Linked DNA regions of Homo sapiens. The protein of the gene in region 1 purifies or fractionates together with the protein of each later gene. This does not show direct contact. Each region holds a gene or a part of one and is shown in the gene's direction. Other genes may lie near its edges.

What was found. The genes of interacting proteins can lie anywhere in the genome.
Region 2: the proteins of SEH1L (region 1) and NUP188 purify together in Homo sapiens (affinity purification with mass spectrometry; one large-scale study listed by BioGRID and IntAct). This does not show direct contact.
Region 3: the proteins of SEH1L (region 1) and NUP98 fractionate together in Homo sapiens (co-fractionation; 3 studies listed by BioGRID and IntAct, with this or other methods). This does not show direct contact.
Region 4: the proteins of SEH1L (region 1) and NUP155 purify together in Homo sapiens (affinity purification with mass spectrometry, with the first as the bait; one large-scale study listed by BioGRID). This does not show direct contact.

What each region holds. Positions count from the first base shown.
Region 1 is NC_000018.10:12,953,655-12,958,862, forward strand, and holds part of SEH1L (nucleoporin SEH1), read left to right. Parts: intron 1-1,808; coding exon 1,809-1,955; intron 1,956-5,208. UniProt on the Homo sapiens protein: Component of the Nup107-160 subcomplex of the nuclear pore complex (NPC). The Nup107-160 subcomplex is required for the assembly of a functional NPC.
Region 2 is NC_000009.12:129,003,199-129,006,782, forward strand, and holds part of NUP188 (nucleoporin NUP188), read left to right. Parts: intron 1-118; coding exon 119-256; intron 257-1,948; coding exon 1,949-2,023; exon of another isoform or gene 2,024-2,099; intron 2,100-2,104; coding exon 2,105-2,332; intron 2,333-2,446; coding exon 2,447-2,578; intron 2,579-2,851; coding exon 2,852-2,925; intron 2,926-3,040; coding exon 3,041-3,170; intron 3,171-3,281; exon of another isoform or gene 3,282-3,303; coding exon 3,304-3,480; 3' UTR 3,481-3,584. UniProt on the Homo sapiens protein: Component of the nuclear pore complex (NPC), a complex required for the trafficking across the nuclear envelope. Required for proper protein transport into the nucleus.
Region 3 is NC_000011.10:3,699,971-3,703,554, reverse strand, and holds part of NUP98 (nuclear pore complex protein Nup98-Nup96 isoform 1 precursor), read left to right. Parts: intron 1-662; coding exon 663-1,092; intron 1,093-2,715; coding exon 2,716-2,945; intron 2,946-3,584. UniProt on the Homo sapiens protein: Plays a role in the nuclear pore complex (NPC) assembly and/or maintenance. NUP98 and NUP96 are involved in the bidirectional transport across the NPC. May anchor NUP153 and TPR to the NPC.
Region 4 is NC_000005.10:37,308,523-37,312,106, reverse strand, and holds part of NUP155 (nuclear pore complex protein Nup155), read left to right. Parts: intron 1-1,363; coding exon 1,364-1,555; intron 1,556-2,534; coding exon of another isoform or gene 2,535-2,585; exon of another isoform or gene 2,586-2,684; intron 2,685-2,839; coding exon 2,840-2,978; intron 2,979-3,584.

The sequences.
Region 1 (5,208 bases):
GTCCCCCCCCCTTTTAAGGTGAGGTTAACTTATAAAATTAATAATTTCAGAGTAAACAATTAATTGGCATTTACTTCATTTACAGTGTTGTGTAACTACCACCTTTTTCTAGTTCTAAAACATTTTTATTATTCCAAAAGGAAACCCCATCTCTTGCTTTTAAGCCTAATATATTTCATATGTACTTTTCTATATCTTTAAAGGCTTTTTATTAACAGCCAATAAATATACCATTTTGCTTAACTAGTGGATATTTCAGTTTCCATTTTATTGTGATGAGCATCTTTGTGCAAACCTTATTCTTTAGATTGCATTTTACTGTAAATCTAATAAAACTTATCTGCCTTAGTGTGCATTTTTAATTTTATAGCCCTGTATAAGTAAGAATTAAAGATGATACAGAAAAGACTGGACAAAACAAGGTTAAAAAAAAAGGGTGCAAAATGTACCTTTAGTTGGTGACATTGTTACCATGTAGAAGTTATTGGTTAAACTATTTTTATGTTGTTGAATGTAAAAAATGTTAGCTATACAGTGTGAAACACATTTTCTGAATGTTATTTGTTATTATACAGTATTTTCCCTGAGAAGCACCTAGCAAATTCTTTTGATGGTGAAATTCTTTAAGACCTTTGTATCCCTTCTCCAGCCACCTCCCCTCCCACCCCTTGGCCAACAGGAGGGGTGTAAGGATTTGGGCTTCCCCATATTTGCTCTTCCTACAATAGTCTGTTATCGATAGACTGTATTGTCAGTTAAAATCATTTAAGCATTCTATGGCTATAATCTCTATATATTGTTAGACTTTTGAAGCAAATAATTTTTTTTTGGAGACAAGTTCTTGCTCTGTCACCCAGGCTGGAGTGCAGTGGCACAATCTTGGCTTACTGCAGCCTCAACCTTCCAGGCTGAAGTGATCCTCCCACCTCAGCCTCCCAAGCAGCTGGGACCGTAAGTGCATACCACCACACCTGACTAATTTTTTGTATTTTTTGTAGTGATGGCATTTTGCCATATTGCCCAGACTGGTCTTGAACCCCTGGGCTCAAGCAGTCTGCCCACCTCAGCCCCCTAAAGGGCTGAGAAGACAGGCGTGAGCCACTATGCCTGGTTGAATCAAATGAAAAAAAAGTATTTTTTTGATTGAGCTATAATTTACATATCATAATGTGCACCCATTTAAAGTGTACAATTTAGTGATTTTAAGTATATTCATTTAATTGGCAACCACCACCACTTCTAATTTCAGAACATTGTTTACCACCTCTAAAGGAAACCCTGTGCTCATTTAGCAGTCACTTCTTGTTTACTCTGCTCCCAGCCGCTGGTAACCACTAATCTACTTTCTGTCTGTATGGATTTTGGAGCAAATAAATCTAATGTTATTTATTTTATTAGGTGGGTATTTTCTGTAGAAAGAATTTGCAAGTAAAATGGTGGACTTACAGAATCTTTGTTTCAAAGGTTGGTTACGCTAAACTCTGAAGCAACTCTCCAACTATCAGCACTGGAAGTAGTCAAGTTTATCTGGCTAGATTTTTCTTTTATTAGTAAAATGTCAGAAGAACTGGACTTCAGAAGCATTACAATCCTAAATATAGAATGTCTTCTAAAGGTTAAAACATTCTGGAATTTAACTTTTTATTTACATGTTATGTTGATCAGTTTTCTTCTCTCATAGAAGTAAAACTATATTCTGTTTCCTGATGTAAAACCAGTGTTTATGAAATATGAATAAGTATTTAGGAAAAAAGAAGCCCTGGGATAATGAGTATCTGTTCTTTTCTTTTTTTTTTTTGATTCCCCAGACACATAGTGGATCTGTATGGCGTGTGACATGGGCCCATCCTGAATTTGGGCAGGTTTTGGCTTCCTGTTCTTTTGACCGAACAGCTGCTGTATGGGAAGAAATAGTAGGAGAATCAAATGATAAACTGCGAGGACAGAGCCACTGGGTGAGACATTTATTAGTATTCTGGGGACCGGGAAGACATGAGCAGCCAAGGAGCATTCATCCGAAGGCTACCTCAGATAATTGGTAAAATATCACCACTCCCCTCTAGTTTTACCAGTTCTAAAGTTCTTTCTTCCATGTTTTTTTCTTCCTTTTTTATTTCATTTTAACTTGGGTCTGAAGCAATACTTAGGAGCATCACTGCATTGTTTATAACTTTTATGATGAATCCAGAATATTTGCATTGTATTTGATTTTACCTATTAGTATATTTTATGATAGTAATATATGATTTTAAAGTATTCTGGCTCACTGCAGTCTCAAACTCCTGGCCCCACCTCAGCCTCCTGAGTTGCTGAGATTATAGGCATGAGCCACTGTGCCTAACTCTAAAATTCTTTTTTTTTTTTAACTTTAAACTCTTAAGGGTTAATAAAATTCTTTTTTTTTTTTTTAGACGGAGTCTCACTGTGTCACCCAGGCTGGAGTGCAGTGGCACAATCTTGGCTCACTGCAAGCTCCGCCTCCCGGGTTCACGCCATTCTCCTACCTCAGCCTCCTGAGTAGCTGGGACTACAGGCGCCCGCCACCACGCCCATCTAATTTTTTGCATTTTTAGTAGAGACGGGGTTTCACTGTGCTAGCCAGGATGGTCTCGATCTCCTGACCTCGTGATCTGCCTGTCGGCCTCCCAAAGTGCTGGGATTACAGGCGTGAGCCACCACGCCTGGCCAAGGGTTAATAAAATTCTTTAAATTTTATTTAAATTTAAATAAATTTAATGGGCCAAATTCAGGATGGGCCCATGTCACACGCCATACAGATCCACTGTGTGTCTGGGGAATCAAAAAAAAAAAAAGAAAAGAACAGATACTCATTATCCCAGGGCTTCTTTTTTCCTAAATACTTATTCATATTTCATAAACACTGGTTTTACATCAGGAAACAGAATATAGTTTTACTTCTATGAGAGAAGAAAACTGATCAACATAACATGTAAATAAAAAGTTAAATTCCAGAATGTTTTAACCTTTAGAAGACATTCTATATTTAGGATTGTAATGCTTCTGAAGTCCAGTTCTTCTGACATTTTACTAATAAAAGAAAAATCTAGCCAGATAAACTTGACTACTTCCAGTGCTGATAGTTGGAGAGTTGCTTCAGAGTTTAGCGTAACCAACCTTTGAAACAAAGATTCTGTAAGTCCACCATTTTACTTGCAAATTCTTTCTACAGAAAATACCCACCTAATAAAATAAATAACATGGCTAACATGGTGAAACCCTGTCTCTACTAAAAATACAAAAAATTAGCCCGGCATGGTGGTGGGTGCCTGTAAGTCCCAGCTACTCTGGAGGCTGAGGCAGGAGAATGGTGTGAACCCGGGAGGCGGAGCTTGCAGTGAGCCGAGATCACGCCACTGCACTCCAGCCTGGGCGACGGAGCGAGACTTGTCTCAAAAAAAAAAAAAATTCTATAAAAATTGTTTCTTTTGTTTTGTGGTTACTTTTGTTTTCTTAGGAAATATACTGTCCTCGGCCGGGTGCGGTGGCTCACGCCTATAATCCCAGCACTTTAGGAGGCCAAAATGGACAGATCACCTGAGGTCAGGAGTTTGAGACCAGCCTGACCAACATGGAGAAACTCCCCCTCTACTAAAAATACAAAAATTAGCTGAGCATGGTGGCACATGCCTGTAATCCCAGCTACTCAGGAGGCTGAGGCAGGAGAATCGCTTGAACCCGGGAGGCGGAGGTTGTGATGAGCAGAGATCGTGCCATTGCACTCCAGCCTGGGGAACAAGAGCGAGACTTCGTCTCAAAAAAAAAAAAATACACTCTCCTTTATCTACATCTGCTTTTATCGCTGTCTTTGCCTTATTGGATGTTTGAATTTGGGCAAGAACATAATATAATCTGTGTGCTGTTGAAGTTCCTCATCTATAAAGTGAAAACATTGAACTAGATTATATTTAAGACTCTTTCCAGCATTTTCATATGAAGGTATTATCATCTGCATGCTTTTTTTCCCCCTTTATGATTTGTTTTTTGTAATAGATAATCATGCACATGGTGTAAAATTCAAAAGAAACAAAAGGAAGTGTGTAGTGGGAGTGTCCTGCTATTACCCCTCACCTGCCCTCCCTAATGGCATGATACTACGTTAGAGCCAGTCACAGCTCATTGCAGTCTCAACCTCCTGGGCTCAAGTGATCCTCCCACCTTAGCCCCACAAGTAGCTGGGATCACAGGCATGCACCACAGGCTGATTTTTTTATTTTGTAGAGATGGGGTTTCACCATGTTGCCCAGGCTGGTCTTGAACTCCTGGACTGAAGCAATCCTCTCACCTCGGCCTCCCAAAGTGCTGTGATTATAGGCGTGAGCCACTACGAGGGCCATGATGCAATTTTTTATTGTGGTAAAATATGTATAACATAATATTCCTCATTTTAACTTTTTTTTTTTTTTTTTTTTTTTTTTTTTTTTTTTTTGAGACAGAGTCTTGTTCTGTCACCCAGGCTGGAGTGCAGTGGTGGGATCTCGGCTTACTGCATTCTCCGCCTCCGGGGTTCAAGCGATTTTCCTGCCTCAGTCTCCTGAGTAGCTGGGACTACAGGCATGTGCCACCATGCCTGGCTAATTTTTTTGTGTTTTTAGAAGAGACAGGGTTTCACCATGTTGGTCAGGCTGGTCACGAACTCCTGATCTCAAATGATTCTCCTGCCTTGGCCTCCTGAAGTGCTGGGATTACAGGCGTGAGCCACCATGCCTGGCCCATTTTAACTATTTGTAAATGGTATAATTCAGTAGAATTAATTACGTTCACAGTGCTGTGTACCCATCACTGTTATCTGTACTCAAAACTGTTCATCACTGCCAACATAAACTCCATATTTTTAAAGAATGCCTCCCCCTTCCTCCTCCCTCTACCCCCTATTCAACTGTCTGTCTATAAATTTGACTAGGTACTGCATGTAAGTGGAATCACAGTATTTGTCCATTTGCAACTGGCTTATTTCACTAAGTAAAATGTTTTCATGGTCTGTCCATTTTGTAGCATATATTAACTTTATTCCTTTTTATGGCTGAGTAATATTCCATTGTGTGTGTATACCACATTTTGTTTATCCATTCATTTGTAGATGGACCCTTGGGTTGTTTCTACTTCGTGGCTATTGTGAATACTGCTACTATGAGCATTGTTGTACAGATAAATGTTTGAGACCGTGCTTTCGATTCTTTTGGAAATATA
Region 2 (3,584 bases), on another chromosome or scaffold:
TCTTTGCCAACTCAGCATTTGGGGGCCTGGGACGTTGCCTCTCCACAGGAGGGTAGGTGTGGGTATGTCAGGTCCCTCAGCCATCCCCATCTTTCCCTGATGTGTGCTTTCCTCCCAGTGCCTCAACGCAGTGAGGACAGTGCAGAGTCTGGCCTGCCTGGAGGAGGCGGACCACACCGTGGGTTTTATTCTGCAGCTCTCTAACTTCATGAAGGAGTGGCACTTCCACCTGCCTCAGCTCATGCGTGATATCCAGGTGGGGGCCCAAGATGGTGTCTTGGAGTCTGGGGTAATGCTTGGAGACAGGGAGGCTGTGAGGTCTCACTGGGGCACTCCTAGTGAATTGCAGGATGTTCCTGAACGGGGGCTTTTCCCTTGGGGAGCACAGGGTTTGCTGTCATGTGCTTACTCTGGCTAAATGTTTCCTTCCATAGTCAAGGGCAGCCATGTAGGTTAAGAATTTGGACTTTTATCAGTTAGATCTTGGTTCAGATCCCTTAAGAATACACTTGGGGCCGGGCATGGTGGCTCACGCCTGTAATCCTAGCACTTTGGGAGGCAGTCAGGAGTTCGAGATCAGCCTGGCCAACATGGTGAAACCCTGTCTCTACTAAAAATACAAAAATTAGCTGGGCGTGGTGGCACGTGACTGTAATCCCAGCTACTCGGGAGGCTGAGTTGGGAGAATCGCTTGAACCTGGGAGGCGGAGGTTGCAGTGAGCTAGGATCGAACCATTACACTCCAGCCTGGGTGACAGAGCGAGACTCCGTCCCAAAAAGAAAAAAAAAAAAAAATGGCCGGGTGCAATAGGCTCACGCCTGTAATCCCAGCACTTTGGGAATTCAAGGCGGGAGGATCATGAGGTCAGGAGCTCGAGACCAGGCTGGCCAACATGGTGAAACCCCATCTCTACTAAAAATAACAAAAATTAGCTGGGTGTGGTGGCACACGCCTGTAGTCCCAGCTACTCAGGATCGGGAGGCTGAGGCAGGAGAATCGCTTGAACTCAGGAGGTGGAGGTTGCAGTGAGCCGAGGTCACGCCACTGCACTCCAGCCTGGTGACAAAGTGAGACTCCGTCTCAAAAAAAAAAAAAAAAAACTAAACTAAACAAAACCAAAAAAACACACACAACTGGAGCTGGGAACCAGCTGGAGAAGGGAGGGGTGAGGAAGGAACACAGGCTCCAGAGCCAGGCAGGCTTCTCTTATCTGCTGGTTGTATGACCTTGGCCAAGTCACTTGTTACTTGTAACCTTTTATTCTTTTCCTATAAAATGGAATCAGCCATAATCCTCATCTTATTTTATTTATTTATTTATTTTGAGACAGAGTTTTGCTCTGTCGCCCAGGCTGGAGTGCAGTGGTGCCATCTCGGCTCACTGCAAGCTCCGCCTCCCGGGTTCACGCCATTCTCCTGCCTCAGCCTCCCGAGTAGCTGGGACTACAGGCGCCCGCCACCACGCCCGGCTAATTTTTTGTATTTTTAGTAGAGACAGGGTTTCACCGTGTTAGCCAGGATGGTCTCGATCTGCTGACCTCGTGATGCGCCTGCCTCGACCTCAAAAGTGCTGGGATTACAGGCATGAGCCACCGCACCCGGCCTCATCTTCTTTACTTTAGGACCTTACAATATACCAGGCACCTAGCTGGGTCTCAGGGAGACAGTCCAGTCCTGAGCCCTGCTGGCCCAAGTTTGTAGCCCTGAGTACTTAGTGGCTATAGGGGCTTTAAGCTGGAAAGTGGCCAGGGGAGCATGAGGGAAGGAGGGAGAGAAGGGGAGCATGAGGGAAGGAGGGAGAGAAGGGGAGCATGAGGGAAGGAGGGAGAGAAGAGCAGCAGCGAGTGAGGAGCGCATGGGTGTTACATGGAGGGCTATTGGGTTGGTCTGGTTGGGTGACTGGGCTGCTGACAAGAGAATCCGCTCATCTCTCCTGTGTCTCTCCCAGGTCAACCTGGGTTACTTGTGCCAGGCATGTACCTCTCTCCTGCACAGTCGAAAGATGCTGCAGCATTACTTACAGGTAAGCGTCCTATGCCATGAGGTCCTGGAATACCTCACGCTAGCTTCCCAAGCTCCACCTTCATTTCTTGACTCTCCTTAGAACAAAAATGGGGATGGCCTCCCCTCAGCTGTTGCCCAGCGAGTCCAGAGGCCACCGTCTGCTGCTTCTGCTGCCCCCTCCTCCTCAAAGCAGCCCGCTGCTGACACAGAGGCATCAGAGCAGCAGGCCTTGCACACAGTCCAGTATGGCCTTCTCAAGATCCTCAGCAAGACGCTGGCAGCCCTGCGCCACTTCACCCCAGATGTCTGCCAGATTCTGCTGGATCAGGTACTGCCCATCATCTGTTCAGCACCACCTCCCCTAAAGGCTCTGCTCTGCTGTGTACCGAGAGCTACCTGGGGCCTTAATTGGGTCCTGGATGGCTCTTGTCTTTTCTCGCAGTCCCTGGACCTTGCTGAATACAACTTCCTGTTTGCCCTGAGCTTTACCACTCCCACCTTTGACTCCGAAGTGGCCCCCTCCTTCGGGACCCTTCTGGCCACAGTGAATGTGGCCCTCAACATGCTTGGAGAGGTAAGTTGGTTCTGTCAGACACTGTCCTCTCCCCCCGGCTCCTCCCCCTGCCTGCCACTTCCCAGCTGACCTTGGGCATGTTGGGCATGGTACCTAGCCTCCCAAGCCTGCTCCTCTCTGTAAACTGAACATGACAGCACCTCTGAGAATTACTGTGAGGATTAAATGAGGTAACTGATTAAATTTGCTTAGTGCAGGACATGCAAGTAGGAAGCTCTCAGTAAGTGGGAGCTGTTCCTGTTGTCTTAGTTTTTTACCCTTGCTTCTCTTCAGCTGGACAAGAAAAAGGAGCCCCTCACCCAGGCAGTGGGGCTCAGCACACAGGCAGAAGGGACCAGGACGTTAAAGTAAGTGCTCTTTCTGGGATTTGATAAGGGGCTGGGGCAGTCATGGGCCCACTGTTCTCAAGCTTGGCCAGCCTGGCCCTCTGCAGCAGTACCAAAAACCTGTGTCTCCTCCCAGGTCCCTCCTGATGTTTACCATGGAAAACTGCTTCTACCTGCTCATCTCTCAGGCGATGCGGTACCTTAGGGACCCGGCTGTGCACCCCCGGGACAAACAGCGGATGAAGCAGGAGCTCAGCTCTGAGTTGGTACGGATGGATAGGGATACGGAGGGCTGGACCAATAGGGCCAGAGCCCTGTGGGGTCCTGCCTGGCAACCCCCAAGGGTCAGAACAGTAGCCAGATGTGCTGAGCCTCACCAAGCCACTTTTTTTCTTGTAGAGCACGCTGCTGTCCAGCCTCTCGCGCTACTTCCGCCGGGGAGCCCCCAGCTCCCCTGCCACTGGTGTCCTCCCCTCGCCGCAGGGCAAGTCCACCTCTCTCTCCAAAGCCAGCCCTGAGAGTCAGGAGCCTCTGATCCAGTTGGTGCAGGCGTTTGTCCGGCATATGCAAAGATAGGGCAGTGCTGTTCTGCCCACCTACCCCTCTCCACCAGCCTACACTGCACCCTGGCTGGCAGGGGTGCTGCTGGCTGCTAGGGCCTATACAATGGAGGGCACCTC
Region 3 (3,584 bases), on another chromosome or scaffold:
TAGGAATGATAATAATGCTAATCATTTAAAAGTTTTTGAGGCCAAGTGCAGTGGCTCATGCCTGTAATTGCAGCACTCTAGGAGGCTGAGGCAGGTGGATCACGAGGTCAGGAGTTCAAGACCAGCCTGGCCAACATGGTGAAACTCTGTCTCTACTAAAAATACAGAAAAGTTAGCCAGGCATGGTGGCGGGCACCTGTAATCCCAGCTACTCGGGAGGCTGAGGCAGAGAATTGCTTGAACCCAGGAGGCAGAGGTTGCAGTGAGCCAAGATCATGCCACTGCACTCTAGCCTGGGCTACAGGGCGAGACTCTGTCTCCAAAAAAAAAAAAAAAAAGTTTTTGAAGAGTGAAATGAAATAACATATACAAATGACTTATACAGAGCCTGCTGCATATTTTTAAATAATATTAATAGTGTTGTTGCTTTTATTATTGTTGTAGATATCATCATCATCATTAGAATCTTGTCCTGATTTCCTAGTTCAAAGAGTAATTTCTGCAAAATCTGACTTAGCCTGCTTCTGGTCATCCACATCTGATATAAGTAGTTTGATTAAACATTGAATGATTTCAGCCTTACTGATTTTTGTTATTGTTCAAGAAACAATAGCTTGTGTTTTGTAATAGTCTTTCTCCCCTTCATTCCCGCTTCATTTCAGTTGGTGGGTTACTACAATCAAAATTTACAAGTGGAGCTTTTCTTTCACCAAGTGTCTCTGTGCAAGAATGTCGTACTCCCAGAGCAGCATCTTTAATGAATATCCCATCCACATCCTCTTGGTCTGTCCCTCCACCCCTGACTTCTGTGTTCACAATGCCCAGCCCAGCCCCTGAGGTTCCGTTGAAAACAGTGGGTACACGTAGGCAACTAGGCCTAGTCCCTCGTGAAAAGTCTGTCACCTATGGCAAGGGAAAACTCTTGATGGACATGGCCCTATTCATGGGACGCTCATTTCGTGTTGGTTGGGGCCCCAACTGGACTCTTGCTAATAGTGGAGAACAGCTGAATGGCTCTCATGAACTAGAAAATCATCAGATTGCCGATTCCATGGAGTTTGGATTCCTGCCCAATCCAGTAGCTGTTAAACCGTGAGTCACATTTCTTGATGCTTTTTGAGAAAGGCAACATGATAGGTGAAAAAAACTAATCAGGAGGATAGGGCCCTGCTTTGTCATCTTTCTAGAGAGAGAGAGAGAGAGAGAGAGAGAGAGAGAGAGAGAGAGAGAGAGAGAGAGAGTGTGTGTGTGTGTGTGTGTGTGTGTGTGTGTGTCTCAGTTTTGCTCTGTTTCCCCGGTGTGTGTGTGTGTGTTTTTGAGTCTCAGTTTTGCTCTGTTTCCCAGGCTGGGGTGCGGTGGCACGATCTCAGCTTGCTGCAACCTCTGCCTCTCAGTCTGAGGCTCTTCTCCTGCCTCAGCCTCCTGATAAGCTGGGATTACATGCACACGCCACCACACCCAGCTAATGTTTCCTGAGCTCAAGTGATTGTCCTACCTTGGCCTCCCAAAGTGCTGGGATTACAGTCATGAGCCACCTTGCCCAGCCTATCCTTCATTTTTAAAGTTGACTTTGAAAAAATAAAAAACAACCTGTAATCCCAGCACTTTGGGAGGCCAAGATGGGCGGATCACGAGGTCAGGAGATTGAGACCATCCTGGCTAACACGGTGAAACTCTGTCTCTACTAAAAATACAAAAAAAATTAGCTGGGCGTTGTGGCAGGCGCCTGTAGACCCAGCTAGTCAGGAGGCTGAGGCAGGAGAATGGTGTGAACCCGGGAGGCGGAGCTTGCAGTGAGCTGAGATCGCGCCATTGCACTCTAGCCTGGGCAACTGAATGAGACTCAGTCTCAAAAAAAAAAAAGAGAGAAAAGAAAAAGAAAAAACAACAATGTCTCTTGAACCTCACAATTAAGAATACTGATCCTAAACTTAGTTATTCTAGGTTAAGCATTATCTTGTGAATTTTGAAGGTTATTAATATCAATCTTAAAAATTAGATCAAGGGGCCGGGTACGGTGGCTCACACCTGTCATCCCAGCACTTTGGGAGGATCACTTGAGGTCAGGAGTTCGAGACCAGCCTGGCCAACATGGTAAAACCCTGTCTCTACTAAAATTACAAAAATTAGCCCAGGGTGGTGGTGCATGTTTGTAATCCCAGCTACTCAGGAGACTGAGGCAGGAGAATCGCCCTTGAACCCAGGAGGCAGAGGTTGCAGTAAGCCAAGATCACGCTACTGCATTCCAACCTCAGCGACAGTGTGAAACTCCATCTCAAAAAAAAAAAAAAAAAAAAAATTGGAACAAGCCTAGCTTAGCTATATGCTCATTGTAATTTAGAATCAGTTCTTTAGTATCTAGAAGCTTAGCCTCATGACTTTTGATACCCAAGTATAATTTGAGAAACAGGTATCCCACAATAGCTTTTGGCCCTTGAGTTTTAGCCAGTTCTAAATCTGTTAGGATTCTCATGCTTGTTATAACCTGGCCTAAGAAGCCTTTGTGTTCTGAATGCACTGATCAGATGATTTTTTTTCCCCAGTATATAGCAGATAAGTTCAGTATAGTTTAAGAAACAAAATTTCTTTAAAACTACAGTGAAATGTTTGCATTCCGTTTGTAATCATAAAAAGAAACAGTGGTTTGGTTGAAGTAAAAATCCTAGCTTCTGTCTTAGGTTCATTTTCTATTCTATTCCTCATTTGCTCTTGTAGCCTAACTGAGTCCCCATTCAAAGTTCACTTAGAAAAACTCAGTTTGAGACAAAGAAAGCCAGATGAAGACATGAAATTATATCAGACACCTCTGGAGCTCAAATTAAAACACAGCACTGTCCATGTGGATGAACTGTGTCCTCTCATTGTCCCCAATCTGGGAGTTGCTGTCATTCATGACTATGCAGATTGGGTTAAAGAAGCATCAGGAGACTTACCAGAAGCACAAAGTGAGTACACACTATGTTTCTAATGTTTGATGTCCCAATAATAGTGGTGGTAGCGTATGTTCACGGGAGGATGAATTTCCTGGCACCAGTCTAGTAGGTAAATGCCTGTGCTTGTCATTTTCTGAGGTTGAGTTTAACTAAGCAGATTCCCAAGCAAGAAGAAATTGTCACTATGTTCTTGTCACTTTGTTCTTTTACCCATTAATGTACAAATTCTTCCACAAAGAACTGTAGCAAGTCAAATCCTTGGATTTATAAAATTGAATTTCTTACCTAATCCAGAGAACATAGGGAGAGAAATACATTCCTTCTTGCTTTACTTTTTTTTTTTTTTTTTTTTTGAGACGGAGTCTCACTCTGTCACTGTAGCTGGGAGTATAGGCGCGCGCCACCACACCCAGCTAATTTTTGTATTCTTAGTAGAGACAGGGTTTCACCATATTGGCCAGGATTGTCTCGATCTCTTGACCTCGTGATCTGCCTGCCTCGACTTTCCAAAGTGCTGGGATTACAGGCGTGAGCCATCGAGCCCGGCCCCTTCTTGCTTTTCTAAATCCTATCCATTCTTCCATATCCAGCTCAAGTACTGTTGGTCTTCTCAACAGCTTTGTTGTAATTCCTCTTCCTGGCTTCTTTCAA
Region 4 (3,584 bases), on another chromosome or scaffold:
ATAATCATTGCTGGAATTTATTATTTCATTTAGGATTACAAAAGGGTAATATTTATTTATTTGTTTGTTTGTTTTTTATTTTTTTTGAGACAGTGTCTCATTCTGTCACCCAGGCTGGAGTGCTGTGGAGCAATCTGAGATCACTGTAACCTCCACCTCCCGGGTACAAGCAGTTCTCCTGCCTCAGCTTCCCGAGTAGCTGGGACTACAGGCATGTGCCACAACGCCTGGCTGATTTTTGTAGTTTTAGTAAGAGACCGGGTTTCGCCATGTTGGCCAGGCTGGTGTTGAACTCCTGACGTCAGGTGATCTACCTGCCTTGGCCTCCCAAAGTGCTGGGATTACAGGCATGAGCCACCATGCCCGGCCAAAAGGATAATATTTTAAATCTGTGATTCCTTCCCCAGTTACTAGCTGCAATTCTGTAAAAAAAAAAAAAAAAATTCTTTTTCCTTGTCCTGTATGGATATTTCATTACTCTGAAACACTTACTTTTTGACTCTCGTATACCATTTTTCAACGTTGGAAGGCAGTCTCCTCATTCTTTCCACTAGTGTCCAATGAATAGTGTGGCTTTTGTTGGTGGTTTTGTTTCTTTTAAATACATACTGTTTTTTATTTTTAAAAATTCAAGCTAATATATTTAATTATGAAACTTATCTTTTTCATACCAAGTAGAATAATAATTTTGAGTTTTATAGAGTGATAAATATATTGTAGGTAGGTTTTTATCCTGGGTATGTTTTTGTGATCCATCTTCAAAGCTCTCTTCCTTACATCACCAATGGCATGCTCAATGAATGCAAATTAAAGATTTGTTCAAGAATTTTAACACAGTTTGGGTATTTCCTTGAATTTAGAAAAAAGAGATAGCAGTCACATCACTAACAGAATCTTTTACTATAGTATAAATCAATACTTTAGAGCTTCATTTGGACAAGCAGATTTGTTCACAATACAGATTAAACTCCAATATTATTATAAGGCCTAGAATAATGGAATTCTAACAGTGTTTAGGAAGGAGTAATATGTAAGCCCAAGATTTTCAAATATAGCCAAGTGATTGTTTTTTCCATTTTATAACCAAAGCCAGGAGATCTGACTCTAGTTTTGGCTCTACTTAAGCTTTACTTTTCTCATTTGGAAAGTGAGAGTTTTGGACTAGATCTACTGTAGGTTCTTTTCCAACTCTCTATGATTTTATGTAAGTTCGCAAAAATTTGTTTCTACTAATTAGTATATTTTCGCTTTTCAATTATAGAGTCTATTAATATTTAGGTTATTTTAATTTATTAAAATAATTTCATTATGTTTAGAAATATGGTATTTCTATAATTGTGATAGAAAAGTTTTATGCTCCTAGGAACTTCAAGAGCAGCTGAAGATCACCACCTTTAAAGATCTTGTAATCAGGGACAAAGAACTCACAGGGGCATTAATTGCTTCTCTTATCAACTGCTACATCAGAGATAATGCCGCTGTTGATGGCATTAGTTTACATTTACAGGATATCTGCCCACTTCTATATAGCACTGATGATGCAATTTGTTCTAAGGTATGATACTTTATTACCTATTTCATTGTTTGTTATAAGAGGTATCATGTATGATGAACCATCTTGTTTCACTTAATATAGGACCTCAGTCAGTTAGATCTCTTAACCTCTCCTAGCCTCAGAATCCTCATCTAAGAAAGGGGTTGGAATATGTGGCTTCTTAAAACCAGTGTATACTCTTTTAAGCTTAGCTTTTCTTTTTAAAAATATTTTTATTTATTTATTTGACACAGGGTTTCACTCTGTTGCTTAGGCTGTAGTGCAGTGCTGTGATCATAGCTCACAGCAGCTTCTAAGTCCTAGACTCAAGCAGGCCTCTCATGTAGCTAGGGGCTACGGGTGTGCACCACTACACCCAGCCAATTTTTTTGTTTTTTATAGAGACAAGTTCTGATTTGTTGCACAGGCTGGTCTTGAACTCTTGGCTTCAAGTGATCCTCCTGCCTCAGCCTCCCATAGTGCTGGGATTATAAGTGTGAGCCACCATGCCCAGCCCTCCTTTAAGTTTTTCATAAAGAATATTCTCTCTTTTTTTTTAAGACTGAGTACGATCTCAGCTCACTGCAACCTCCACCTCCCAGGTTCAAGTGATTCTCCTGCCTCGGCCTCCCAAATAGCTGGGATTACAGGTGTGCACCATCACACCTGGCTAATTTTTTATATTTTTGGTAGAGACAGGATTTCACCATGTTGTCTAGGCTGGTTTTGAACTCCTGACCTCCGCCTGCCTCAGCCTTGCAAAGTGTTGGGATTATAGACATGAGCCTCTGCGCCTGGCCCATAAAGAATCTTTGATAGTGTTTCTAGGCCATATTAAAAAACCAAAGGTGAGAAATTAAGAAAAATCACTAAATTTAGAAATTAAGGAAATTTAGGGGATAATTTATCTCCTTAGCTTAAGGAAAAGTACTAAAACTTCAAGTAAATCTTTTAGTGAATTAGAGTTAATGGGGGCATTTTTATTGATCCTTTCCTACAGGTGGAAAAAATAAATAAATCAGTGTCACATGGACTGCCTGCTGCCCAATAATGTATTGACTAGGCAAGAGAATTACCAGACAAAAGTTCTCTTGCTTAACATATTTGGGAGAGGAATTAAGAATAGCTAGGAATCTTTGGTCAAAAACTTTTCTGCCTAAAATTAAGAAGTAAGTTTGTAGAGTTGTTTTCATTTTAATGGTAATAACCATATATAAATTTAGACATAGACTAAAACTTAGTTGACAGCATCATCTGTCTGCTTGATTTTATATATTTTTAAGTTCTTGTTATCTCCTCTTCTAGGCAAATGAGCTTCTCCAGCGTTCCCGACAAGTTCAAAATAAGACTGAAAAAGAAAGAATGTTAAGGGAATCATTAAAGGAATATCAAAAAATTAGCAATCAAGTGGACCTTTCCAATGTTTGTGCTCAGTATAGACAAGGTGAGAAATAAAATGTTTCTTGTATCTTTTACTCAACTCAAAAGACAAACAATAGTGTATGAATGAAGCAAGCTAATGATGAAAAGCCACTTTCCAGATGCAAATCTTCTTTCAGCATCAGAGGCCGAGTGAAAGGACGTAGGAATGTGGTATCATTGTGTTGCAATATTTGATGACTACACTGACCTGCAGAAGCTGTAATGTTCTTTCTATTTTTTGAAATGTACTTTTTTTTTTTTTTTTTTTTTTTTTTGAGAGTCTCGCTCTGTCAGCCAGGCTGGAGTGCAGTGGCACGATCTCAGCTCACTGCATCCTCTGCCTCCCAGGTTCCAGCAATTCTCCTGCCTCAGCCTCCCGGGTAGCTGGTATTACAGGCGCACGCCACCACGCCCAGCTAATTTTTTATTTTTTTATTTTTTTATTTTTTTTATTTTGAGACAGAGTCTTGCTCTGTCACCCAGGCTGAAGTGCAGTGGTGCGATCTCAGCTCACTGCAAGCTCTGCCTCCCAGGTTCACGCCATTCTGCCTCAGCCTCCCAAGTAGCTGGGACTACAGGCGCCTGCCACCATGCCCGGCTAATTTTTTTGTATTTTTAGTAGAGATGG